7 linked regions of the Homo sapiens genome follow. The protein of the gene in region 5 purifies or fractionates together with the protein of the main gene of each other region. This does not show direct contact. Each region holds a gene or a part of one and is shown on either strand. Other genes may lie near its edges.

Region 1 (2,836 bases), on a different chromosome or scaffold from region 5:
TGTGATTACTCTCAATAGACAAGTACTGTTTCAAAAAAAGAAGTTTGCTTTAAAAAAAAAATCAACAAAGCATATAATGCATCTATTGTATGACAAGTGAAGCACTATAGGAACATAAATAAGAGGAAGATGGTCTTAGCCACTAAAGAGAGCTATAAATTACTACTGTTGTTTTGGGACCATTTAAGAAATATTTGAAGGCTGGTTATGGTGGCTTATACCTGTAATCCCAGCACTTTGGGAAGACGAAGTGGGTGAATCACTTGAGGTCAGGAGTTCGAGACCAGCCTGACCAACGTGGTGAAACCCCGTCTCTACTAAAAATACAAAAATTAGCCGGGCATGTTGGTGCACGCCTGTAATCCCAGCTACTCGGGAGGCTGAGGCAGGAGGATCGCTTGAACCTGGGAGGCGGAGGTTGCAGTGAGCTGAGATGGTGCCACTGCACTCCAGCCTGGGAGACAGAGCAAGACTCCATCTCAAAAAAAAAAAAAGAAATATTTTAAACACAGCACTTTATTTCTTGATACATTTCAAACACCAGAAGTTACAATCACTGACTGAAACACTACACAGACCTGCCCCCAACACGTGAGTCCAGAGAATCACATTCCTCTCAGTGTGGATCTACTCGCTCTGTTCTCTGAACTTGGAAAACACTGTAGTGCCATTCTATGAAATGGTCCCCAAGTCACACAGAAGCCACATAAATGATGATTTGGTCAGTTTGATTTCATTTTAAGGTAAAGGAGGATACAAAGTTCACTACTTGAAAATAATTGATTAAGAAGGCAATATGACATTTTCATGCTAGTTTGTGTAGTAATTTTACTGCATAAGAAATTACAGAGATTGCATAAATCATTAGGTCAACAGCATACAGAGAAGAACAAAACAAAACATTGTTTGGATCAAATAAAAAACAGCAGGAACAACTCAATTCTTAAAAATACCACGAATTCCCCGAATGTGGCTCCATTTGATAGAAAATTTTGCATTTTCTGGATAATGTCTGTAGTTACATTAAGCAAAATGGAAAACGGCCTTCAGATAAACACACTAAAAAGCAGCTTACACAGATGTGTTGCCCTCTTCACCTTGGATGTAACAAAAATAAAGATGTGAGGCTGCCTGCTCTTGCCTAAAGCATGGCTTGAACTTTCAATTGATAGTAACCGCTTATGTAAAATATTACATTACATAATCTCCTGTGTATTGAAATTGCACAAGTCAGAGCATCCAAAAACTGCAAGAGTCAATTTCTTCCTATGGGGAAAAGCATATAGATATACTATGTTAAAACTTCCATTCCTCATTCGATTATTTGCCCTATTCAAAACATAAAAATACAAATAAATATTTCCTTACAAAGTTCACAGTATGTTGTTTTAAAAAAAAGAGATAAAAAAACTTAATTTGCTTTGTCATTAAATAAAAATGCTAATATATAGACATGTTCAATATTTATACAAATTGTAGGGGCCAGTGTATCCTTTCTTGGTCATAATTGAAGTTTAATAGTGCTAGTCCATACACGACAAGGCTCAGATCCCAAATGTAAGCTCAATTCTACTAAAAGTTGCTCAAGATAATTTTTTCTCTTTTTCTGTTTAATTAAAAAAGACATTTTTGGAATTTTAGAATTACATTTGAGTTGTCTGAAAAAATACAATTTCAATGAAAAATCATATCACGCATTCAAGAGTATATTGCTGGTGCTATAATCTTTTTGCATGTCTTTGTTTTCATAGAAAAAAATCAGTAAAATAACATGTCTAAGACTTTTAAATGGTTAAATGTAACCACATACTATTAATGATATGCCTCATGCACACACACACTCAAACTCAAAACATGAAGGAAACAGGATCAGACAGCTTTCTTTTGCATTAGTTCTAGCTTTCTTCTCAGCAGACCGTAATTCTCCTTAGTTCCTGATGCCGTGGGGTCAAGCTGCAAGGAGATTTCATAGTGTTTCTTGGCCAAGTCTAGATGTCCCCAACGATGATAAAGCACAGCTGAAATAGCAGGAGATAAATTTCACTGGGAATGCTTCTGAGTAACGTGCCGTATTCCTACCCTCTTGGACAAAGAAATATTACAGATCCTATGCAAACAGTTTTCAAAAGTCAATTGTATGAAACAATATTGTTTGTACTGAAAACTCTATTTATTGTAATCACACTCCCTGATGATTATCCATTTACTGCCAGTTACTCCTAGGGCTCTTCATAGCACTAGATAAGATACATCTGCCTATAGTAACATTATTACATAAAGAAGCAAAAAGAAGAGTACATGCAATGTCTTAGTGCTGCCATGAAATTTCCAGGAAGCAAGGCTGGGTATGGGAGGTGGGGGTGATGGATGCTAGGCACTGCCCAGAGCCCTGACTATGCAGAAGTTCAGCTGTTTATTTTAAATATTTCCTTACACCATTTGGGGAAGTAATAGCTTGTTTGGGTCCATTTAGAAAAAAGGCCTCTGATATCAAGAGCTGACCCTAAAATGATAGTTACAGTAAACCTAATCATTAGGATGATTAGCCTCTGATCATGACAGTGATTTTGTTAGTAAAATTAACTTTCTATATGGGCAGAAGAGCATCTGTGGACGCTTTTTGGCTTTTGTGAAGAGAAGCTTCAGAGTTGGTAGAGAACAGCTTTGGTGAAAAAACATTTCTGTGAGCATTCTAAACATCAACAATGCTATGCTCTAAACATCTTAACTATGGAGACATACAAATGCAAGAAATGAATTCTAGGGAATAAATGATTATAAATGCATTTTAGCCAAGGCATAAGAGGATATAAAGCAGAAGACCAGGCTGGAAGGG
Region 2 (3,941 bases), on a different chromosome or scaffold from region 5:
CCAGGGTGAGCTGCAGTCAGGCGGGATGGGACGGGCAGGCCAGAGGTCAGCCAGCTCCTAGCAGAGAAGAGCCAGCCAGACCCCAACCCTGTCTCTTGTCCATGCCCTTTGTGATTTCAGTCTTGGTAGACTTGTATTTGGAGTTTTGTGCTTCAAAGTTTTTGTTTTTGTTTGTTTGGTTTTTGTTTTGAGGGGGTGGGGGGGGATACAGAGCAGCTGATCAATTTGTATTTATTTATTTTAACATTTTACTAAATAAAGCCAAATAAAGCCTCTCAGCCTCATGGTGTTGGGTTTGGGGCAGGGGAGGGTGGGCAGGACACATTCCAGTCCCAGCCTCTGCCCTCCCTGACTGGCTGTCTGGGGGTGGGGGGCGGGGGGGTGCTTGCCCTTAAGGGCCCAGGCCCTCCTGTGACCCCAGCTGGATGTAGCACCTCCCTTGTGCACTGACGCCCTAGCCCCAGAGTGCCCTTGCTCCCCCAAACCAGGAACACAAAAAAGATGTTTTAAAACTTTAATTATGAAAAAGGGATAAACAATTCAAGATGGGGGAACCAGCCCCAAACTGGCTGGGGCAGAGAGAGACCAGTCCCCAGCCATACAATAGCAGCAAGGGGAAGACCCCACCCCACAGATGCTCTGCCCCAGCCCTTCCCAGAGACCTTAAATAATTTAAATAGCAGGGATGGCGGAGGGCAGGTTGCCCTGGTGTCTGCCCAATGCTAAGATGAGGGGCAGCGCCGGCCCAGCCTCAGCCTCGGGCAGGGCTCTGGGGCTGCTGCAGGGCTGGGAGGTATTTGAGGGCAGCAGCCCCATGGTGGCGGGACAAGTCCTGGTGGAATTCGTCCTTGAGGGCCTGGAGGCAGTCACGATAGGTGGGGCTGGAGCGGAAGCGGGAGATGTCCAGGCTTGGAGCGTGGGGCAGATGGATGGTGAAGGCCTCGGGCAGCACCAGGAGCTCATATTCCTGCAGGGTGGGGCAGAGGAGCAGTGGCTGCCTGGCTTGCCTGGCCTGCGGGGAAGGTGCAGCTCCAGAGAACAGGCTTACCCTGTAGCCCCTGAGAGCTAAAGCAAGGGCCAAAGGGCAGATTATTTTAATTCCACAGAAGGGGGACATTTCTAACAGTGTTGCCTAGTGGTGTGGTCCCCCATGCAGGTGTCGTGAGTTCCCTGGACCTGGAGGTGCTCGAGTCAAAGGTGGAGGCAGCAAGGTGCCCTCCTCACCTGGGCATCCAGCTCCACAATGTGGGCCACTTTGTTCCAGCCGAAGCCCACAAAGCGAGGATCATAGCGGGGACAGTCTCGTGGCACCACCACGTAGGGTTCATAGTTGGCCGCCCATTGCACACGGTACGGGGCCTGAGCCTCCCGCCAGCGGGCATAGTCTGTGGGTGCGTGGCCTCGGGGCCACTCGTGGTACCTGTGCAGCAGGGTCGGGTGGGAGCCAGGCTGAGGCTAGGAGCTCGTGGGTAGTGGGGGCCAGTGTGGGCAAGTGAGTGGAGTGGGCAGAGAAGTAGCCTCTCCTACCTGAAGGTGTAGAGAGTGCCCGCATCCAGCAAGGCCAACAGCTCCACCTTGGAATGGGGGAAGCTGAAGCGGTAGCGCAGGGTCTCGAATGCCGGCACCACCAGTGCTGCCTTGCGCCGGCTGCCCAGCCCCAGCTGCTCAATGGAGGCCCTGAGGAGGAGCACCCATGAGCAGGGGAGAAGAGCGGGGCATCTAGGACTGGGCCAGTGACACTCATCAGGGCATTAGCCACAGGACTAGACCACCATGGGCCATCTTGCCTGATGCGACGGGTGGGCACAACCACAGGTGGAGCTGCTGTTGAAGCCGGCCCTGGCCTCCCTGTTGACAGCCCAGAGAAACAGCCTAATACAAACCCCAATTGACAGAGGCCACTGAGGCCCAGAAAGGAGCAGGGACATGGAAGCCTGGGGTCCCACGCATGCCCCGTCCACGTCCACCCCATATATTGTTCCCCTCTCTGCCTGCAGGCCCACCTGAGGTAGTCGTAGAGAGAATAGGCAGGCAGGAAGTCAATGTCACTGAGGAAGACGTAAGGCGTGAGGGCCTGGGCCAAGGCCACGTTGCGAAGCTGGTTGACGGGGTATAGGGGCCCCTCACGGTACACCACATGGTAGGCCACGTCCTGCCGGGCAGCAAGCACTGGTGAGGCCTCGACGAAATGCAGGAACTGCTGAGCTTCTGCGTCTGTCAGGTACAAGGCCAGGCTCATGGGGCCAGGCCAGTGCCTGCACAGGGCTTCCAACATCTGCAGCCTATGGGGAGAGGGAGGTCAGCACAGCTCTGCCCCTCTTGCACAGGAGCTCAGGGAGGCCTGGCAAACCTCCCCAGTTAGCTGCTGCTGCCACCTCCTCAAGTGACTTACTGAGCACCCTTCAAATACTTTTAGAGCCAGTCTGATTGAATCTTCACAACTACCCCCACCAGGTGGGTACTTTCTCATTTGAGAGAGAAAACTAGGGGCCAGAGATATGAAGACTTGCTCATGGTCCCACAGCGACCGAGGGGCAGCTCCGGGCATCTGAATGACTCCAGAGCCCAAGCTCTTTCCACCATATCCAATGTCTCCAACTTCTGGAACTCCCTGAGGGACAGGTAGCTCACTACCACAGCATCAGGCTGCCAGATGGAACCTCCTCTCAGAAGTGTCCAACCCCAGCCCATGCCATACCCCCTGGGCTGCCCTCTGCACCCTCACCGGTCCATGGACAGCTGGGCCACAAGGGTGACATCGTGAGGCCGGGGGGGTGGCGGTTCATGGGGCAGGAAAGTGACATGCACACGGTGCACAGTGAGCTGCTGCTGCCGGAACTCAAAGCAGGGGTCTTCCTCGTCCAGTTGTGCCAGGGCCTGCTGCAACTGAGGGGGCAAGGGGTGACAAGGACCGGGGATAGGGCAGAACAACACATCCCCCAGACAAGGCTGGGTCCCACCAAAGCAGAGAGGGGCAGGGGAAGGTGACTCCTTCTCACCTGCTCAGCACCAGGTGGGGGCTGGCTGGGGCACACAAAGAGCTCTCTCCGCAGCAGGTTCCCATCGTACTCCAGGAAGGTCAGGTAGAAATTGCGGAAGAATTCCACATGCTTGTTCTTCACCCGAAGCTTCTTTGGTGAGTTCCAGTGGATCACCTGGGACCCAGGAGGGTGTTGGGGCCATGGGAGCAGGGAGCAGAAGTCTCCATCCATGGCCCCCCACCACCACACAGCCTCTTGTCCCACTCACCTTGAGGTCAGACGCCTCAGAGTAGCAGCGCTCGGCCAGTGTGTGATCTGACAGCTGCACATTCCAGACACAAGGCAGACGCTGCACTAGCCCCGGGTGCTCCTTGATCACAGCGTTGAAGATGTCCTGAGCAGAGACACCCATCACATCCCAGCCCCCAGCCTGCCACACCCCACCCGGCAAGGCTTCCTCAGACCTGGTCAGCCAGTGAGGTGGCAGGCAGGCTAAGGAGCTCCCGCCTGGCTGTCAGCCTCCACATCTGCTCCCAGCCAGCCTGCCGGAGCCGGTCCAGCCGCAGCAGGATCACACCTGCCAATGAAGAGATGCTGTCATGCCCACCTGGGACGACCAGCTCCTGGGGGACATGGGGGTCATGAAGGTGTCCTTTGTTTTTTGACATTGGTATTTTCTGACTGTTCAGACATGATCATGGACTACTTGTTTTTTGTTGTTGTTGTTTGTTTTGTTTTGTTTTGTTTTTTAGAGACAGGGTCTTGCTTTGTCACCCAGGCTGGAGTGGTGCAGTGGCACAATCATGACTCACTGCAGCCTCGACTTCCCAGGCTCAAGCAAACCTCCCACCTCAGCACCCCACCACAACCCCCACCGAGTAGCTGGGACTGCAGGCATGCCACCACACCTATCCTTTTTATTTATTTACTTATTTTTTATTTATTTACTTATTTATGTAT
Region 3 (3,500 bases), on a different chromosome or scaffold from region 5:
TGAGTCCCTACCAGGCACAGAGATTGTGTAAGAACGATCTTAGCATCCTCAGATGCAGAGCACGACCACCCTGGTGCACACATCCAACAGGAGGCGGGGGCACTCGGAGCTGCAGGCGGGAGCGGGAGGGCCGGGGAGGCAAACGAGGAAGAGCTACCGCGGCGAGTTCACGGCCCGTGGAGCAGCGCGGGCCGTGTGTCCCAAGGCACTATGGCTGCTGAGCGGACGTCTCCTTAGGGTTCTGCAGTGGATCTTGCCCCGCGCTGAAGCCCCACTGGGCCACACTGTCCATCCCAGGAAAAGTGGCTGATCCGCAGGCTCAAAGAGAACCACAGAAATGCTGGTCTCAGAGGGGCTGGGGCTAAGGCCCCCATGTCACACACACAGCACCCATGCGGCTAGACATCTAGATTCTGCAACAAAATCCAGACGTATTTAAGAAGCCAGGCTACAAAACAGGCCACGGAAAAGCACACTTTGAAGGTTTCACATGAAAGCGTGTGCCCGGGCCAAGTGGAAGAGCTGCGTCCCACAGTCTTCAATGCGATGCTCCTTAAAATGCTGCTTCTCCCCAGGCAAGAGTGACTATTGGGTACTTTTAACAACACGCTTCAGTGAACCACAGCTCAGCTGGTCGGCGCTGGTACCTGCTGAGCACCTGGGGGAGCAGGTGTGTAGCCTGAGTGGGGCCAGGCACGGCACGCCAGCTGTCGGGACGGCTCACCTGACTGTGCGACGATGACACTGAACTGCAGGAGCTCCGGCGAGTGTGCGGTCCAGTCAAGGTGCGACGCGGTCACCCGCTCCAGGAGGGGACCAATGTGCTTGCGGTAGAGGTCCTGGCAGCTGCTGACACCCTCCACCATGGCCAGTGAGTCCATCGTCTCCTGTGCCTGGAGGTTACAAGTCAGAGACTGAGACAATTCCAACACTCAGGGCTCAAGCCTGCCTGCCTGCTGGGACTCACTATCCCCCTCACGCGTAAGAACCACACAGGCCGGGCCTGCCAGGATAATCGGGAGGGAGGCTGCCACAGGGAGCCCCGCCCAGGGTGCAGGAGAGCGAGAGCCGCGGGTGCAGGGCGAGACCCTGATCCCGTTCACACCAACGCCGTCTCTGCAGCGAATCATGAAGCAGGCACTGTGCACACTGGGATGCACACAGCACAGGTGGTCCTGGGGCTTACACGGACGTGGTGTCCGCCTGGGCAGGCAGGGCTCCTCTGAGGTGGTGAGGAGCAGAGAGGGGCGGGCAAGTGGCTTAAAGAGTTAAGCCCAGCAGACCAGACCTCCAGGTAAAAGTAACTGGGCAGACAGAGATGATAACCTTGGCCACCTTTTACTTTTAGCTGGCTGCTCTCCTTGGGGGCTTAGGAACAGAGGAAGGGCTGAGGCTCCCCGGTGGCCATTGCCCCAAGCCTGGAGTCTGAATCTGGGGCTACCTGGCTTCGTCCCCCATGACCAGCAGGCAAAGACTTTGCTTTTGCTGGTACCTCAGGCCCTAACAGTGACAGCATCTGCTGAGACACACGCCCCTTGGGAAGCTTGTTTTTAGAGGCCCCAAGAAGGAAGGGGAGGGCAGCAGCCTCCTCCACACCAGGTTCCCCATAGTACATTCAGGCCGTAAATCTCCCAGAGAGAGAATCTGCCGAGAGGGGCTGTCCACAGAGACAGAATGGGAGGAGGAACTAAGTCTCAGCTTCCAGAGAGGCAGACAGATACTGGGGCCTCCAGGGGCCCTAGAAGCCCATTAGAAGGTTGGGGTTAAAAGATTTTTGGGCATAATGGCCAGGTGCGGTGGCTCATGCCTATGATCCCAGCCCTTTGGGAGGCTGAGGCAGGTGGATCACCTGCAGTCAGGAGCTTGAGACCAACCTGGCCAACGTGGCAAAACCTTGTCTCTACTAAAAATATAAAAATTAGCCGGGTATGGTGGTGGGCGCCTGTAATCCCGGCTACTCAGGAGGCTGAGGCAGGAGAATCACTTGAACCTGGGAGGCAGAAGTTGCAGTGAGCCGAGATCGCGCCACTGCACTCCAGCCTGGGTGACAGAGCGAGACTCCACTGAAGAAAAAAGATGATTTTTGGGCATAAACAGGGAGCCCATGGGCGAGAAGTACTTCTGAACGCTGTGCTGCAATGAGAGCGGGAAATCACGGTATCTTCTCTCGACTCAGTCACACATGCACATGCACTTTTTTTTTTTTTTGGACGGAGTCTCGCTCTGTTGCTCAGCCCAGGCTGGAGTGCAGTGGCACGATCTTGGCTCACTGCAACCTCTGCTTCCCTGGTTCAAGCAATTTTCCTGCCTCAGCCTCCTGAGTAGCTGGGACTACAGGCACATGCCAACACGCCTGGCTAATTTTTTGTATTTTTAGTAGAGACGGGGTTTCACCATGTTGGTCAGGCTGGTCTCAAACTCCTGACCTCAGGTGATCCGCCCACCTCGGCCTCCCAAAGTGCTGGGATTACAGGCGTGAGATGCCACGCCCAGCGACATGTGCACTATTAAACCCTACTCAAGTGCGCAGGTTTAAAGGTTACGTCTTATTTCTTGTTTGCTTCTTTGCTGAAGACCCTAACATTAAACAGCTGTCTCCACTCCCTGATGCCAGAATACACTGGCAGCTGGAGAGCTGCCCCGAAGGCCGTTGCCCGGGGACTCACCCGCAAGGTTCTCAATCCCTGGTCTTTGCTGGTCAAGCACAGAGGGGATGCATAGGAGACAGTTCACCTCACTTAGAGATGCCTTCCAGCTGTGAGCTCCGCTAGGTCAAGCAGCAGCCACCACTGTCAGCCTTACCTTGTCCCTCAGGCCGGTAGCACCTGCGAGGGCCACTATTGTCAGCAGCACGTCCAAGAGCTGCAGGCTGGCCACGCCACAGTCCTCATGACACACAGACACCAGAGCCTGCACACACAGCAGCAGGCGCTCCAGGTAGAGGTCCTGGAAGAGACCGGCAGCACCGTCAGAGCTTGGTACAATTTGGTCGTGTCCCCACCCGAATCCCATCTTGAACTGTAGCTCCCATAATCCCCACGTATCCTGGGAGGGACCCTGTGGGAGGGAACTGAATCATGGGGGTGGGTCTTTCCCGTGCTGTTCTCTTGATATTAAGTCTCACGAGATCTGATGTTAGTATAAAGGGCAGTTCCCCTGCACACTCTCTCGCCTGCCGCCACGTAAGACGTGACTTTGCTCCTCCTTTGCCTTCCACCATGATGGTGAGGCCTGCACAGCCATGTGGAACTTTGAGTCCATTAAGCCTCTTTTTCTTTATAAATTACCCAGTCTGTGGTAGATCTTTATTAGCGACATGAGAATGGACTAATACAGGGCTCCCGCTCCGGCCCCAGTGTCAGGGCCGACAGAGCCCGCCCGGGGCTCCTAGTCTACGGCTCACGAGGGGCAGCAGCCATGGGAGAGCCCTTGCAGGGAGAGCCCCCAGGCGCTGGAGGTAGGGTGCCGGCATGTCAACCATAAAAGGGCGTGCTTGTTGA
Region 4 (3,500 bases), on a different chromosome or scaffold from region 5:
GGCACCTTTCTACCCCATCCTGTGTTATGTCTGGACCTTCTGCTGGATGGAGTTTGGGGCAGGGTGCCCTCTGCGCAGCCCTCCCCTGAATATCCCCATTCTCTGCCTTTACATGCCTGGAGGGTGGAGGGGAGAGATTTTTTTTTTTTTTTAATTTTTCCCTGAGACAGAGTCTTGCTCTGTCGCCCAGGCTAGGGTGCAGTGGTGTGATCTCAGCTCACTGCAACCTCCGCCTCCTGGGTTCAAGCAATTTTCCAGTCTCAGCCTCCCAAGTAACTGGGATTACAGGCGCGCACCACCACACCCAGCTAATTTTTGTATTTTTAGTAAGAGACGGGGTGTCACCATGTTGGCCAGGCTGATCTCGAACTCCTGACCTCAGTTGATCCGCCCGCCTTGGCCTCCAAAAGTGCTGGGATTACAGGCGTGAGCCACCGCACCTGGCCGGAGGTGGGGAGATACCTTGCAGCTCATAGTGACCCTGGGCTTTTGTCCTTCTGGGGTAGACTAGAGGATAAATAGCTGGAATTCAGGCAGCAAGGCCCTCTTCTCTGCTTTTGGCAGCCATGTTGCAAACTTATTAGCCGGAGGTCTGGAGGTCCTGCTAACCTTAGAACCCCAAGCCCCACCCATCCCACCCTGGCCCACACAGCCACAGGGTATTTGCAGAAATCTGTAGATCTGGACATGGGGATTCACAGATAAACCTGTTTAGTGTTGGTCTTTTTTCTTTGAGGGCTGAGACCTTCCCTCTCTCTCTCCCTTTTTGGGTATAAGCTAGTTCTGAGGGTATAAGGATTTTTTTTTAGTGAGGGGTGTGGAAGCTATGCCTGGAGGTAATTATGAGAATGGGTGGGACTTGAGGGAGGAGAGAGGTTCGGGTTGGTGGGCTGGGGACTCCCGCTGACAGCCCTCTGTTCCCCCAGGGTTTCTGTTCCTGGCTGACAGCCATCTTCAGGATAAAGTAAGTGGACCATCTTCAAGCTCTAAAGAAAGAGAGAAACTTCAGAACCTGGCATCTCCCTACAAAATTCAGAAGCCAGCAGCTTTCAGGGCCTTAGCACTCCTCGCCAGCACAGCACCCTCCTCCCTGCTCTCAAAGGCCAAGCCTCGGGTGCCTGAGCCTCTGCTGTACCCTGAACACTCACTTGACCCCATAATCTCCTCTGTGACCCCCTGCCGGCCCCCCCGCTTCTCTCCCTGCCCTGCCCCACCTTGAGGGAGGGGGTGGAGCCCCTGCCTCAACCTCTGTGCAGCCAGTGAGTGGGGGCAGCAGTAGGCTGGGAGCAGCCAGCCAGCTGCAGGCAGAACTCAGGAGATCCAGCCAGAGTCCAGCAGGCAGGCAGTGAGCGCTGAGAAAGGCAGGAAGCCAGGACAGGTCAGCACTGCCGCCACCACTCCCCCAGGCCTCCCCCAAGGGTACCCGGGCTTCACTACGCCAGGCTCAGCCACACCCATGAGGTGCTGCTGCCCCTCCTCCCATCCTTCCTTCACTTCTGCCTCTTTCACCACTCCTCCTCCTGCTGGTCCTCCTCCTCTCTTGCCTTCCTCCCTCCTCAGATATTTCTCTTTTTTCTTCCCTTTTCTCTGCATTCCTCATTTTTCTTCTTCCCCTTCCTGTCTCTGCAGTCTCTTCTTTCTTTTACCTATCTTTTCCTTCTAGCCCTCTGCCTTCATCCCTCCCCTTCTCCATGCATTTCTCCTTTTTCTCCCTCCCCCTCTCTTCTCCCTTTCTCCCCTCTCCCTTCACAGAAAATAGGGGACCAAGAAGTCCCATTTCAGCCCTATACTACTGCCAGATCAGCTGGAGCTAGGGTGGGTTTGGGGTGGGAGTGGGTGAGGGCAGGCAAGTTGCAGCCCCCTTCTTGCCCTGGTCCTAACCTAATTCCTTTGTCCAACCCGTATGGCTGCAGGGATGATGAGATCCGGGACAAATGTGGGGGCGATGCCGTGCACTACCTGTCCTTTCAGCGGCACATCATCGGGCTGCTGGTGGTTGTGGGCGTCCTCTCCGTAGGCATCGTGCTGCCTGTCAACTTCTCAGGGGACCTGCTGGGTCAGTGAGGGCCAGGACGGCTAGGGTGGAGAGAGGATGGGGCTGGAGGGGATGTGCCCTGACCCCACCATCATCCTCTCCCTCTTCCCACCCCACAGAGAACAATGCCTACAGCTTTGGGAGAACCACCATTGCCAACTTGAAATCAGGGTAAGATGCGAAGCTGGTCGGCCAGGCCAAGGTCTACGACCAGAGTCTGGGCCATGATGTGGGACAGGGAGGAAAGGCAGCTGCGTTGATGGGAGCAGAGCCTACAGGGATGGCTATGGGTCCCTGAGGGCTTGGGTTGGAGACAGAAGAGGGAAATGCCTGCTGAGGATCCCCCAAGGATGAAGAGGATACAGAAGAGGAGGGTGAAATCTCAGGAACCAGGGAGGGCCAGCTGGGGCAGTTGGAGACACTGTAACCAGTGGGTAGGGCGTAGAAAGGTGACCTATCAGGGATATTTTCATTGGAATCGAAGAATTTTGGTGTCTAGGGGATGTGGGATGTGGGCCTGCCTTGCGAGGAGTCAGTGCCAGAAGGCTGGTGGCAGTAGAGGGCCCTGTCTGTATCAAGGGTTTAACACTGACAGGCTGAGGTGTCTCCTCTGAGTGTGTCCTAGCCCCAGTGGCTCCCATGTATCCTCTCTGCTTCTCCCAGGAACAACCTGCTATGGCTGCACACCTCCTTCGCCTTCCTGTATCTGCTGCTCACCGTCTACAGCATGCGTAGACACACCTCCAAGATGCGCTACAAGGAGGATGATCTGGTGCGTGGAGCAGAGCCCAGGTCCTGCCCCATCCCCAGCCTCTTCCCTTCCCTTCCCTGCAGGCCTCTTTTGTCTCAGCCCCAAGAGGTGTCAGCTAGGTTTGAATGCTGGCACAGCAGCTCAGGAGCTCCCATCCTGCAAGTTACATAACCTCCCAAGCCATGATTTTCTCATCTGTAAAATGGAATAACAACAGTACCTCCCCCAAGGTTGTGGGGAATACACAGAAACAGCCGTGCTGTGCCCAGCACTTGGGAAAATAGCAGTGGCTGATCCTAGGATAGTAATATTCCTTCCCCTTCTACATGCACTCACCAAGCCAGAACCGGACACCTACTCCATGCCAGCCACTGTGCTGGGTTCTCAGGGTCTAAGGAGCTGAAAGTAGTACCCCCTTCTGCCTCTATAACCCCTCAAGAGCATGGGACGGCGTGGCTCTTTTGTTAGGCTCACTGCCTGATTTCTGTTGGAAACACTCCCCTGCTTTCCCTGGGACCTGGCTTATCCATAACTAAGGCCTCCTCCCACCCCATCTGTTCCCCTCTGCTCACCTACTTCTCTACCCACTCAAAACAAAGCCTCTTTCTCTAGTGCCCCCCACCCCTCACATCCCCTGGCTCCACTGGGGTCAAGCCTCAGAAGGCAAACCCACTCCCCTGTCACCCAGGTGAAGCGGACCCTCTTCATCAATGG
Region 5 (3,118 bases):
AGACTAATGAAAATGTCAACGTGCCATTCAATCACGAAAGGTAACGAAAAATGCTCTCATGGTTCAAATAGTCCAATGGCCCATAGTGGCCTAAAAGGCAGCCAGTTGACACCTGGCCATGCTAAGCTTCCTTATACCATCCGCTAATGACTTTCCATTGGGCCCACAATTTACGGATTCATAATTTTAAAAGAGGAGAAGGCCAAGTTAGGTTCATTCCCCTTATTCTGTCAATAAAACAAATCAAACTCATGTCTATCTAACTGCTCAGGGAGGAGCCTTTGCATGAGAAAATTCTCATATTCTAAGACTGAGTCATAGAAATGAGGGTATTACTTTTCTTACTGCAATTAACCTAAACAAAAGCCATATTTTAACAAATAGATATTTGCATGGTACCCTTCATATATTCCAAGCATTTCACTCATTATTCCAGGTAGGTTAAGAGCTTCTGAAGTGTATGAAGTAAAGGTCAGCAATCCTTTGGGGTGAACAGTGGCCTCCTTTGGAGTTTGGGGGTAACCTGAGACTTCCCACCAATGTCCACCTCCATCTGTGTACCTAATTCCTATTACCTAGTTATGGCTCCTCTAGGATCATTTCCAAACACTCTGGATGTCCAGGAAATTTAAATTGTAGCTTTTGACTGAGCTAGTTTTTCCTATTTATATTAATAAATTTTCAAAAATGCTTGAAATCTTCACATTTGCAACAACTTTAGTTTTCATGCACATACAAACACAGAGAGACAAAAATTCCAAACAGACACTCTCCAAAAGCCACCACACTCTTTCACTTGCTCTATAGTCATTTAGCCAACCAGCCATGCAGAGAATATTTAAAACTTAAAGATTGAGACATTATTCTCAGTTTTTGCTGAGGCTTTGTAACGAAATTGAACACTATAAGCAGCTATTGTAGTAATTTTGGTTAAAATTGTTTGCCTGGGATATAGTATTTGAGGCAGAAGCACGTGTGTGAAGGAGGTGAGGTGGTTTGGAAAGAGTGAAGACTCGCAGCCAGATTGAATGTCTGGATAATTACTATAATTCTCCCTTCTTGGTTGAAACCATGTTCTCTCTTGATTTTTAAACCCAGGCTGCCTCTGGAAACAAGCAAACCTGAGTCTTTCTAACCTGAGTCTTCCCAATCATTAGATTTCTTTTCTGTCCTAACGATGAATGATAAAAGGACTTGATGTTCACAATTTGGGGTTATAAGGCAGGTCTGAAATCTGGAGACTCAAGATGCTGGAAGGAGTGGAAAGTTTCGATGACTTTATATGAATCACTTTGCACTCTATGTTTGGCTTGTCCTCTTTGAAACTGATTTACTAAAATAAATGTAAGGGAACTATTACTCCAAAAGATTAACTTGGCAGGAAATACCAATACTTTCAGTTTATGAAAGACAAAACTGTCTTGTTGCTACAGGAAGCTGCAATGTTCCTAACCTTTAAGGTTGGTGTTGAATAGGGTGGTCATGCCCTCCCCTGCAGGTATCTTTAGGCTCCTGTTGACCTCCTGGTACTATAACTGTTCGTCTTCTCTGGGTAGCTATTGATTTTGAACTTTAACATGCTTCAAAACTTTATTCATCAGGGAAATAGGAAAAGAGTTTTGTTACCTGGAGGAAATCTATTGTGATCTACCTGAGCTTTTTAAAAACAGACCAGGAGAAGGAAACCAGTAATTTTTAAAGAAGAGACAGAGAATGGGATAATAGTTTCACCCAGGATCTCTTTCTAACCCTTTCCCTTCAAATGAACTTATTGGAACAGAATTGGAAAGAAGAAAGGACATCTCTGCCCACCCCACAGGATGCCAAAAAGGCTAAAGAATTACCTCTGTAGATTTAAACATCTTTAATGGCTTATGTATAGATTTGCTAATACAGAGAGAAATGAACTATTAAATAAAAATCACATTTTATAATATTTTTATGGCTTAAAACATCCTTTATCTCCTTTTTGTTCTCTCTACATGATATGGTAAGTGATGAGGAAAATTTAGGCTCAGGAAGGTTAAAATCTTTCTTGGAGTTACACATCTAAGAGAGCTGCAGAGCTGACACTTGTACCCAGGTTTTCTGACTGCAAATCCAGTTTCTTTCTATTGCGTTCTTCCCCTTTCCCTGCCTCAAGCAGAAACAGGTTTTTTATTTTCAACCTTTATGTATACAGTATGTTATGTTACATCTACAGCTAAGTTTCTTTTTAGAAGAATGTGAGCCCTTCTAGCTTTGGTTTAGAGTGATTCTAGAAGCCAATTTCCTTGGCTTAGTGATTCTATGCACCTTTCCTAAACTTAGCTTTCTAAGGAAATGAAGTGTACGAGTGAGAATGAATTCACAATTTCGACATGTAGGTAGCATCCTAAAGTGAAAAGAGGAGGAAATTTGTGGTCAAAGCACTCTCCCCACCACTTAGAAACTTACTGACTGTGGGCAGCTTCCTCCTCCAAGTTTCCTTCCTGATTTACAAGACCGTGGTGTGGTCAGGATTAAACTTGAATACATGTAAGGAAGCCTGAAAGTGTCTAACACATAGCGAGTATTCAAATGCCACCTTCTATTTGATCCTTCCCCTCCAGTTCCTTAAGTTTTGGAATCTAGGTTTCTCAGTTCCAAATGGATTGACATTTGCATATCCCCATTGCACAATGGATCAAATAAACTTTATGTTATCATTTCTCCAACATAGTGCCAGTAAGCAAATCCTTTTTAATAACAACAGTATGTTGAGAAACATATCACCAAATAATATTTAACTTTGTAGCTTTGATAAGTTCTTTAGGTTTTGGTTTTGGTTTTGTTTTCTGAGACAGGGTCTTGATCTGTCACCCAGACTGGAGTGCAATGGTTCAATTTTAGCTCACTGCAACCTGTAACTCCTGAGCTCAAGTGATCCTCCCACCTCAGCCTCTCAAGTAGCTGGGACTACAGGTGTGCTCCACCATGCCCAGCGATTTTTTTTTTTTTTTTTTTTTTTTTTTTTGGTAGGGACAAGGTCTCGCTATGTTGCCCAGGCTGGTCTTCAATTCCTGGCCTTAAGTGATCCTCCTGCCTCGGCCTCCCAAAGTGCTGGAATTACAGGCATGAGCCACCACCCATAACTTTA
Region 6 (3,500 bases), on a different chromosome or scaffold from region 5:
GGGTGTCAGGCTTTCCGGGATAGGGCTCTCTAACAACCCCTGACTCTTCGGAGTTGGGAGTGTTGGTTTGCCTGGAACCAGCTTTCCGCTTTTCCTGTACTTCCGGGCTGAGCCGAGGGTCGACAGAGAGGAAAGCCATTCAGCTCCGGGGTCCTGACAACAAGTTGGTTGACCCTGTGGCCATGAGCAGAACTCTCGAAGTCATGTTGCCCAAGCGAGACTCGCCCATCTATCCTACCTATCCTGACCCTTGCCTCCTGGGTCCTAATGCTTGTCAGAAAAACTTTCTCTTGCCTCTCTTCTCTGAGGCTAGTCCCGCTTCTGGAAACCACTCCCTGTCTCTGGTGCTTTTCTAGTTTCTCCTGTAAGAATCATTTCTAGTATAAACTCCAGGACTCTGTTAACCTTCTTTAGGCACCCGGGCTCACCAATTAGAAAGACATAATTTTTGCCCAAAGCCCCATCAGGGTGGGGGACTGTCTTATCCGGAATTTTAGGATCCCTCCTCAGACTAGCAGGCCTAACAAAAGCTATTCCAGAAGCTAGGATACGGGGAGCTTCAGAAATGACATTCTTGTATTCATATAAGTGCGGACAAAAAGGCATCACTCTTCCAACTCTGGAGATCCCTCCCCTCCCTCAGGATATGGCCCTCCACTTCATTTTTGGGGCATAACATCTTTACAGGAGGGGTAAAGTCCCAATACTAACTGGAGAATGCTTAGGACCCTAACAGGTTTTCGAGAATGCATCAGTAAGGGCCACTAAATCCAATTTTTCTCGGTCCTCTTTGTGGTCTAGGAGGACAGGCAAGGGTGCAGATTTTTGAGAATGCATTGGTAAGGGCCACTAAATCCGACCTTCCTCGGTCCTCCTTGTGGTCTAGGAGGAAAACTAGTGTTTCTGCTGCTGCGTCAGTGAGTGCAACTATTCCCATCCGCAGGGTCCAGGGACCGACCGTTGTGGGTTCTTGGGCAAGAGGTGTTTCTGCTGCTGCATCGGTGAGTGCAACTATTCCGATCAGCAGGGTTCAGGGACCATTGTGGGTTCTTGGGCAGGGGGAGAAACAAACAAACCAAAACTGCGGGCGGTTTTGTCTTTCAGATGGGAAACAATCAGGCATCAACAGGCTCACCCTTGAAATGCATCCTAAGCCACTGGGACCAATTTGACCCGCAAACCCTGAAAAAGAGGTGGCTCATTTTTACCGCACTATGGCCTGGCCCCCATATTCTCTCTCTGATGGGGAAAAATGGCCACCTGAGGGAAGTATAAATTACAATACTATCCTGAAGCTTGACCTTTTCTGTAAGAGGGAAGGCAAATGGAGTGAAACACCTTATGTCCAAGCTTTCTTTTCATTGAAGGAGAATACACAACTATGCAAAGTTTGCAATTTACATCCCATAGGAGGACCTCTCAGCTTACCCCCATATCCTATCCTCCCTATAGCTACCCTTCCTATTAATGATAAGCCTCCTCTAATCTCCCCTGCCCAGAAGGAAATAAGCAAAGAAATCTCCAAAGAACCACAAAAACCCCTGGGCTATCGGTTATGTCCCCTTCAAGTTGTAGGGAGAGGGAATTTGACCCAACTAGGGTACATGTCCCTTTCTCCCTCTCTGATTTAAAGCAGATCAAGGCAGACCTGGGTAAGTTTTCAGATGATCCTGATAGGTACACAGATGTCCTACATGGTCTAGGGCAAACCTTCGATGTCACTTGGAGAGATGTCATGCTACTGTTAGATCAAACCCAGGCCTTTAATGAAAAGAATGCGGCTTTAGCTGCAGCCTGAGAGTTTGGAGATACCTGGTACCTTAGTCAAGTAAATGGCAGAATGACAGCTGAAGAAAGGGACAAATTCCCTACTGGTAAGCAAGCCATCCCCAGTATGGATCCCCACTGGGACCTTGACTCAGATCATGGGGACTGGAGTCGTAAACATCTGTTGACCTGTGTTCTAGAAGGACTAAGGAGAATTAGGAAAAAGCCCATGAATTATTCAATGATGTCTACCATAACTCAAGGAAAGGAAGAAAATCCTTCTGCCTTCCTTAAGTGGCTACAGGAGGCCTTAAGAAAATGTACTCCCCTGTCACCAGACTCACTTGAGAGTCAATTGATTGTAAAATATAAGTTTGTTACCCAATCAGCCGTGGATATCAGGAGAAAGCTCCAAAAGCAAGCCCTGGGCCCTGAACAAAATCTGGAGGCATTATTAAACCTGGCAACCTTGGTGTTCTATAATAGGGACCAAGAGGAACAGGCCCAAAAGGAAAAGCGAGATCAGAGAAAGGCTGCAGCCTTAGTCATGGCCCTCAGACAAACAAACCTTTGGTGGTTCAGAAAGGACAGAAAATGGAGCAGGCCAATCACCCGGTAGGGCTTGTTATCAGTGTGGTTTACAAAGACATTTTAAAAAAGATTGTCCAACGAGAAACAAGCCACCCCCTCATCCATGTCCGCTATGCCGAGGCAATCACTGGAAGGCGCACTGCCCCGGAGGACAAAGGTTCTCTGGGTCAGAAGCCCCCAACCAGATGATCCAACAACAGGACTTGAGGGTGCCTCGGGCAAGCGCCAGCTCATGTCATCACCCTCACTGAGCCCCGGGTACATTTAACCATTGAAGGCCAGGAAATTGACTTCCTCCTGGACACTGGCGTGGCCTTCTCAGTGTTAATCTCCTGTCCCGGACGACTGTCCTCAAGGTCCATTACCATCCGAGGAATCCTGGGACAGCCTGTAACCAGGTATTTCTCCCACCTTCTCAGTTGTAATTGGGAGACTTTGCTCTTTTCACACACCTTTCTTGTCACGCCTGAAAGTCCCACACCCTTATTAGGGAGGGATATGTTAGCCAAAGCTGGAGCTATTATCTACATGAATATGGGGAACAAGTTACCCATTTGGTGTCACCTACTTGAGGAAGGAATCTACCTTGAAGTCTGGGCATTGGAAGGACAATTTGGAAGGGCAAAAAATGCCTGCCCAGTCCAAATCAGGTTAAAAGATCCCACCACATTTCCTTATCAAAGGCAATATCCCTTAAGGCCTGAAGCTCATAAAGGATTACAGGATATTGTTAAACATGTAAAAGCTCAAGGCTTAGTAAAGAAATGCAGCAGTCCCTGCAACACCCCAATTCTAGGAGTACAAAAACCGAACGGTCAGTGGAGTCTAGTGCAAGATCTTAGACTCATCAGTGAGGCAGTAATTCCTCTATATCCAGTTGTACCCAACCCCTATACCCTGCTCTCTCAAATACCAGAGGAAGCAGAATGGTTCCCTGTTCTGGACCTCAAGGATGCCTTCTTCTGTATTCCCCTGCACTATGACTCCCATGACTCCCAGTTTCTCTTTGCCTTTGAGGATCCCACAGACCACACATCCCAACTTATATGGACCGTCTTGCCCCAAGGGTTTAGGGATAGCCCTCATCTGTTTGGTCAGGCACTGGCCCAAGATCTAGGCCACTTCTCAAGTCCAGGCACTCT
Region 7 (3,500 bases), on a different chromosome or scaffold from region 5:
GCGGAGGTTGCAGCGAGGCAAGATCACACCACTGCACTCCAGCCTGGGCAATAAGAGCAAGACTGTCTCAAAAACAAACAAATGAACAAAAAAACACTCTCCAACGACACTGCCTGTGGTAGATGCTGTGAGTACACCACCTTCATCCCTTCCCACTCCAATTCAGACCTGCTGACTTCTTACTGCCAACATTTACCCAAAGACTTTGCTTGTGGACTTTCTCTGAACGCAGGCCAGCCGGCTCTGACCACTTAGGAATGGGCAGAAAGCCCTGGGAAATTAGCATCTCCAGATGCAACCTTCAAAAGACTGACCTGGTGGATCAATACCCCAGCTCCCTCATCTCTCTGGTGCAGCATGTCTTATGCTGCCTCCCACAGATCTCTAGAGGGCTGGAACTCCATTTGCTAGGAATAGTAACTTGCTTGATAACATACTGTTACGGGTTGAATCATGTCCCTCCTTTGGGGGGGAACATGTTGATGTCCTAACCCCCAGTATCTTAGAAGGTGACATTCTTTGGAAATAGGGTCTTTGCAGATCTAATTAGTTAAGATGAGTAGGGTAACAGGGTAGACCCTTAGTCCAGTATGACTGGTGTCCGTAGAGGAGAAAGACAGAGACACACACGGAGAAAGACAGCCAGGTGACAGCGGAGGCAGAGATTTGAGTGAATGTATCTACAAGCCAAAGAATGTCCAGGGTTGCTGGGAACAAGCAGAAACTGAAAGAAGGAAGGAAGGAAGGATTCTCCCCTAACAAGTTTGAGAGGGAGTATGGCTCTGCTGACACCTTGATTTTGCACTTCTGGCCTCTGGAACTGTGAGACAATAACTTTCTGTTGTTTTAAGCCAACCAGTTTGTGATACTTTGTTACAGCAGTCCTAGGAAACTAACATACTCATACTGTGTGCATTGACTCCCTGTCTCATTACCTCCCCAATAAATCACTTGTCCTCACGTCCCAGTTTCAGGGTCTGTTTTGGAAGGATCTCAAACTAAGACCAAAACTATTATTATTATTATTGAGACAGGGTCTCGCTCTCACACCCAGGCTGGAGTGCAGTGGTGAAATCTCGGCTCACTGCAACCTCCGCCTCCTGGGCTCAGGTGATCCTCCCTACTTCAACCTCTGGAGTAGCCAGGATTACAGCTGTGCACCACCACACCCGGCTAATTATCTTTATTTTTATTTTATTATTATTTTTTGAGACACAGTCTCACCCTGTCGCCTGGGTTGGAGTGCAATGGCACCATCTCGGCTCACTGCAACCCCACCTCCCAGGTTCAAGTGATTCTCCTGCATCAGCCTCCTGTGTAGCTGGGATTACAGGCTTATGCCACCGGGATTACAGGCATGTGCCACCAGGCTTGGCTAATTTTTTGCTTTTTTTTTGAGACGGAGTCTCGTTCTGTCGCCCAGGCTGGAGTGCAGCGGCACAATCTCAGCTCACTGCAACCTCCACCTCCCGGGTTCAAGAAATTCTCCTGTCTTAGCCTCCCAGGTAGCTGGGATTGCAGGCACACACAATCACACCCGGCTGATTTTTGTATTTTTAGTAAAGACAGGGTTTAACCATGTTGGCCAGGCTGGTCTCCAACTCCTGACCTCAAGTGATCTGCCTGCCTCTCCCTCCCAAAGTGCTGGGATTACAGGAGTGAGCCACCATGCCCGGCCCTATTATCTCTATTTTATAGAAAAGAAACTGAGGCTCGGGAAGTTACTTGCCCAAAGCTACAAAATAAAGGTGAGAACCAACATTCACAGCTGTATGTGAATCTAGAACTGTGCACCTGAAGACTTTAGGGTGGCTAATCCCTTCTGAAGCCTTCTGCCAAGGTGACTGTAAGAACAAGACCTTCTTTGCTTTGCGGCTGGGAGAGGCTTATAGGTTTCATTTCCTATGCCAATTCTAATCCACCAGAAATTGCTGCCTGAAACTGGAATTGTGTTGAGCAGGACTCAGTGCTGTGATGGATTAGTAATGCCTAGCCCAGGCACAGACTGGGTAAAATAGGCAAGTACTTAACATTATTGCCTTTGAAATTTTAGAAGCCTTCTTTTGGGTCTAGAACAGCACTTGCCAAATAGATGTTTAATGGGTTATTATTAAGATCAATCTGTTGAAAAGAAGTTCTAAAGACGGCCGGGTGTGGTGGCTCATGCCTGTAATCCCAGCATTTTTTTTTTTTTTTGAGATGAAATCTCGCTCTCTCACCCAGGGTGGAGGGCAGTGGCGCGATCTTGGCTCACAGCAAACTCCGCCTCCTGGGTTCAAGCGATTCTCCTGTCTCAGCCTCCCGAGTAGCTGGGATTACAGGTGCCCACCACCACGCCCAGCTATTTTTTGTATTTTTAGTAGAAATGGGGTTTCACCATGTTGGCCAGGATGGTCTTGATCTCTTGATCTTGTGATCCACCCCCCTCAGCCTCCCAAAGTGCTGGGATTACAGGTGTGAGCCACTGCACCTGGCAATTCCAGCATTTTGGGAGGCCGAGGTGGTCGGATCACTTGACGTCAGGAGTTCAAGACCAGCCTGGCCAACATAGTGAAACCCCGTCTCTACTAAAAATACAAAAATTAGCCTGGCGTGGTGGCGCACACCTGTAATCCCAGCTACTCGGCAGGCTGAGGCAGGAGAATTGCTTGAATCTGGGAGGCAGAGGTTGGAGTGAGCTGAGATCACACCACTGCACTCCAGCCTGGGTGACAGAGTGAGACTCTGTCTCAAAAAAAAAGAAAAAAAAAAGTTCTAAAGACTAGATTAATGTGGCCAGCACTGGGTTAAAAACAAAAAAAGTTAAATCACTTTACTGAGAGACTTCTCGGAGCCTTTAAGGGACAAACACAGATTTTGAAACTCCAAGGTTTCTAAAACCTCTTAGACTTTTAAAGTCCCTTTTTGGGTAAAGAATGCATTAAATAATAAGACTGTGTCTTCTTTCTGTCTTTCTTTCTTTCTTTTTTTTTTTTTTTGAGACAGGATCTTGCTCTGTTGCTGAAGCTGGAGTGCATTGGCATGATCACAGCTCACTGAAACCTCTGCGTACTGGGCTCAAGCAATTCTCCCATCTCAGCCTCCTGAGTAGCTGGCACTACAGGTGTGCACCACCACACCTGGCTATTTTTTTTTTTTTTGAGACAGAGTCTTGCTCTGTCACCCAGGCTGGAGTGCAGTGGCACGATCTCAGCTCACTGCAAGCTCCGCTTCCCAGGTTCATGCCATTCTCCTGCCTCAGCCTCCCAAGCAGCTGGGATTACAGGTGCCCGCCACCATGCCTGGCTAATTTTTTGTATTTTTAGTAGAGATGGGGTTTCACCATGTTGGCCAGGATGGTCTCGATCTCTTGACCTTGTGATCCACCCGCCTCGGCCTCCCAAAGTGCTGGGATTACAAGCGTGAGCCACCGTGCCTGGCCACCTGGCTAATTTTTAAATTGTTTTATAGAGACTGGTCTCGAACTCCTGGGCTCAAGCAATCCTCCCACCTCGGCCTCC

What was found.
Region 1: the proteins of NRG1 (region 5) and TMTC4 purify together in Homo sapiens (affinity purification with mass spectrometry; 3 studies listed by BioGRID and IntAct, with this or other methods). This does not show direct contact.
Region 2: the proteins of NRG1 (region 5) and LARGE2 purify together in Homo sapiens (affinity purification with mass spectrometry; 3 studies listed by BioGRID and IntAct, with this or other methods). This does not show direct contact.
Region 3: the proteins of NRG1 (region 5) and DNAAF5 purify together in Homo sapiens (affinity purification with mass spectrometry; 3 studies listed by BioGRID and IntAct, with this or other methods). This does not show direct contact.
Region 4: the proteins of NRG1 (region 5) and TMEM63B purify together in Homo sapiens (affinity purification with mass spectrometry; 3 studies listed by BioGRID and IntAct, with this or other methods). This does not show direct contact.
Region 6: the proteins of NRG1 (region 5) and GALNT11 purify together in Homo sapiens (affinity purification with mass spectrometry; 3 studies listed by BioGRID and IntAct, with this or other methods). This does not show direct contact.
Region 7: the proteins of NRG1 (region 5) and SLC25A23 purify together in Homo sapiens (affinity purification with mass spectrometry; 3 studies listed by BioGRID and IntAct, with this or other methods). This does not show direct contact.

The regions. Positions count from the first base shown.
Region 1 is NC_000013.11:100,603,125-100,605,960, forward strand, and holds the end of TMTC4 (protein O-mannosyl-transferase TMTC4), read right to left. Parts: intron 2,019-2,836; coding exon 1,870-2,018; 3' UTR 501-1,869; downstream 1-500. UniProt on the Homo sapiens protein: Transfers mannosyl residues to the hydroxyl group of serine or threonine residues.
Region 2 is NC_000011.10:45,925,656-45,929,596, reverse strand, and holds the end of LARGE2 (xylosyl- and glucuronyltransferase LARGE2), read right to left. Parts: intron 3,559-3,941; coding exon 3,446-3,558; intron 3,376-3,445; coding exon 3,250-3,375; intron 3,156-3,249; coding exon 3,000-3,155; intron 2,887-2,999; coding exon 2,726-2,886; intron 2,283-2,725; coding exon 2,004-2,282; intron 1,849-2,003; coding exon of another isoform or gene 1,678-1,848; coding exon 1,528-1,677; intron 1,421-1,527; coding exon 1,225-1,420; intron 1,066-1,224; coding exon of another isoform or gene 968-1,065; coding exon 752-967; coding exon of another isoform or gene 673-751; 3' UTR 501-672; downstream 1-500. UniProt on the Homo sapiens protein: Bifunctional glycosyltransferase with both alpha-1,3-xylosyltransferase and beta-1,3-glucuronyltransferase activities involved in the maturation of alpha-dystroglycan (DAG1) by glycosylation leading to DAG1 binding to laminin G-like domain-containing extracellular proteins with high affinity and in a phosphorylated-O-mannosyl trisaccharide dependent manner.
Region 3 is NC_000007.14:761,199-764,698, reverse strand, and holds part of DNAAF5 (dynein axonemal assembly factor 5), read right to left. Parts: intron 2,947-3,500; coding exon 2,803-2,946; intron 894-2,802; coding exon 725-893; intron 1-724. UniProt on the Homo sapiens protein: Cytoplasmic protein involved in the delivery of the dynein machinery to the motile cilium.
Region 4 is NC_000006.12:44,137,554-44,141,053, forward strand, and holds part of TMEM63B (mechanosensitive cation channel TMEM63B), read left to right. Parts: intron 1-926; coding exon 927-964; intron 965-1,913; coding exon 1,914-2,056; intron 2,057-2,154; coding exon 2,155-2,206; intron 2,207-2,698; coding exon 2,699-2,807; intron 2,808-3,474; coding exon 3,475-3,500. UniProt on the Homo sapiens protein: Mechanosensitive cation channel with low conductance and high activation threshold. Osmosensitive cation channel preferentially activated by hypotonic stress.
Region 5 is NC_000008.11:32,768,311-32,771,428, forward strand, and holds part of NRG1 (pro-neuregulin-1, membrane-bound isoform isoform HRG-alpha proprotein), read left to right. Parts: 3' UTR 1-3,118. UniProt on the Homo sapiens protein: Direct ligand for ERBB3 and ERBB4 tyrosine kinase receptors. Concomitantly recruits ERBB1 and ERBB2 coreceptors, resulting in ligand-stimulated tyrosine phosphorylation and activation of the ERBB receptors.
Region 6 is NC_000007.14:152,032,174-152,035,673, reverse strand, and holds part of GALNT11 (polypeptide N-acetylgalactosaminyltransferase 11), read right to left. Parts: intron 1-3,500. UniProt on the Homo sapiens protein: Polypeptide N-acetylgalactosaminyltransferase that catalyzes the initiation of protein O-linked glycosylation and is involved in left/right asymmetry by mediating O-glycosylation of NOTCH1.
Region 7 is NC_000019.10:6,446,293-6,449,792, forward strand, and holds part of SLC25A23 (mitochondrial adenyl nucleotide antiporter SLC25A23), read right to left. Parts: intron 1-3,500. UniProt on the Homo sapiens protein: Electroneutral antiporter that mediates the transport of adenine nucleotides through the inner mitochondrial membrane. Originally identified as an ATP-magnesium/inorganic phosphate antiporter, it also acts as a broad specificity adenyl nucleotide antiporter.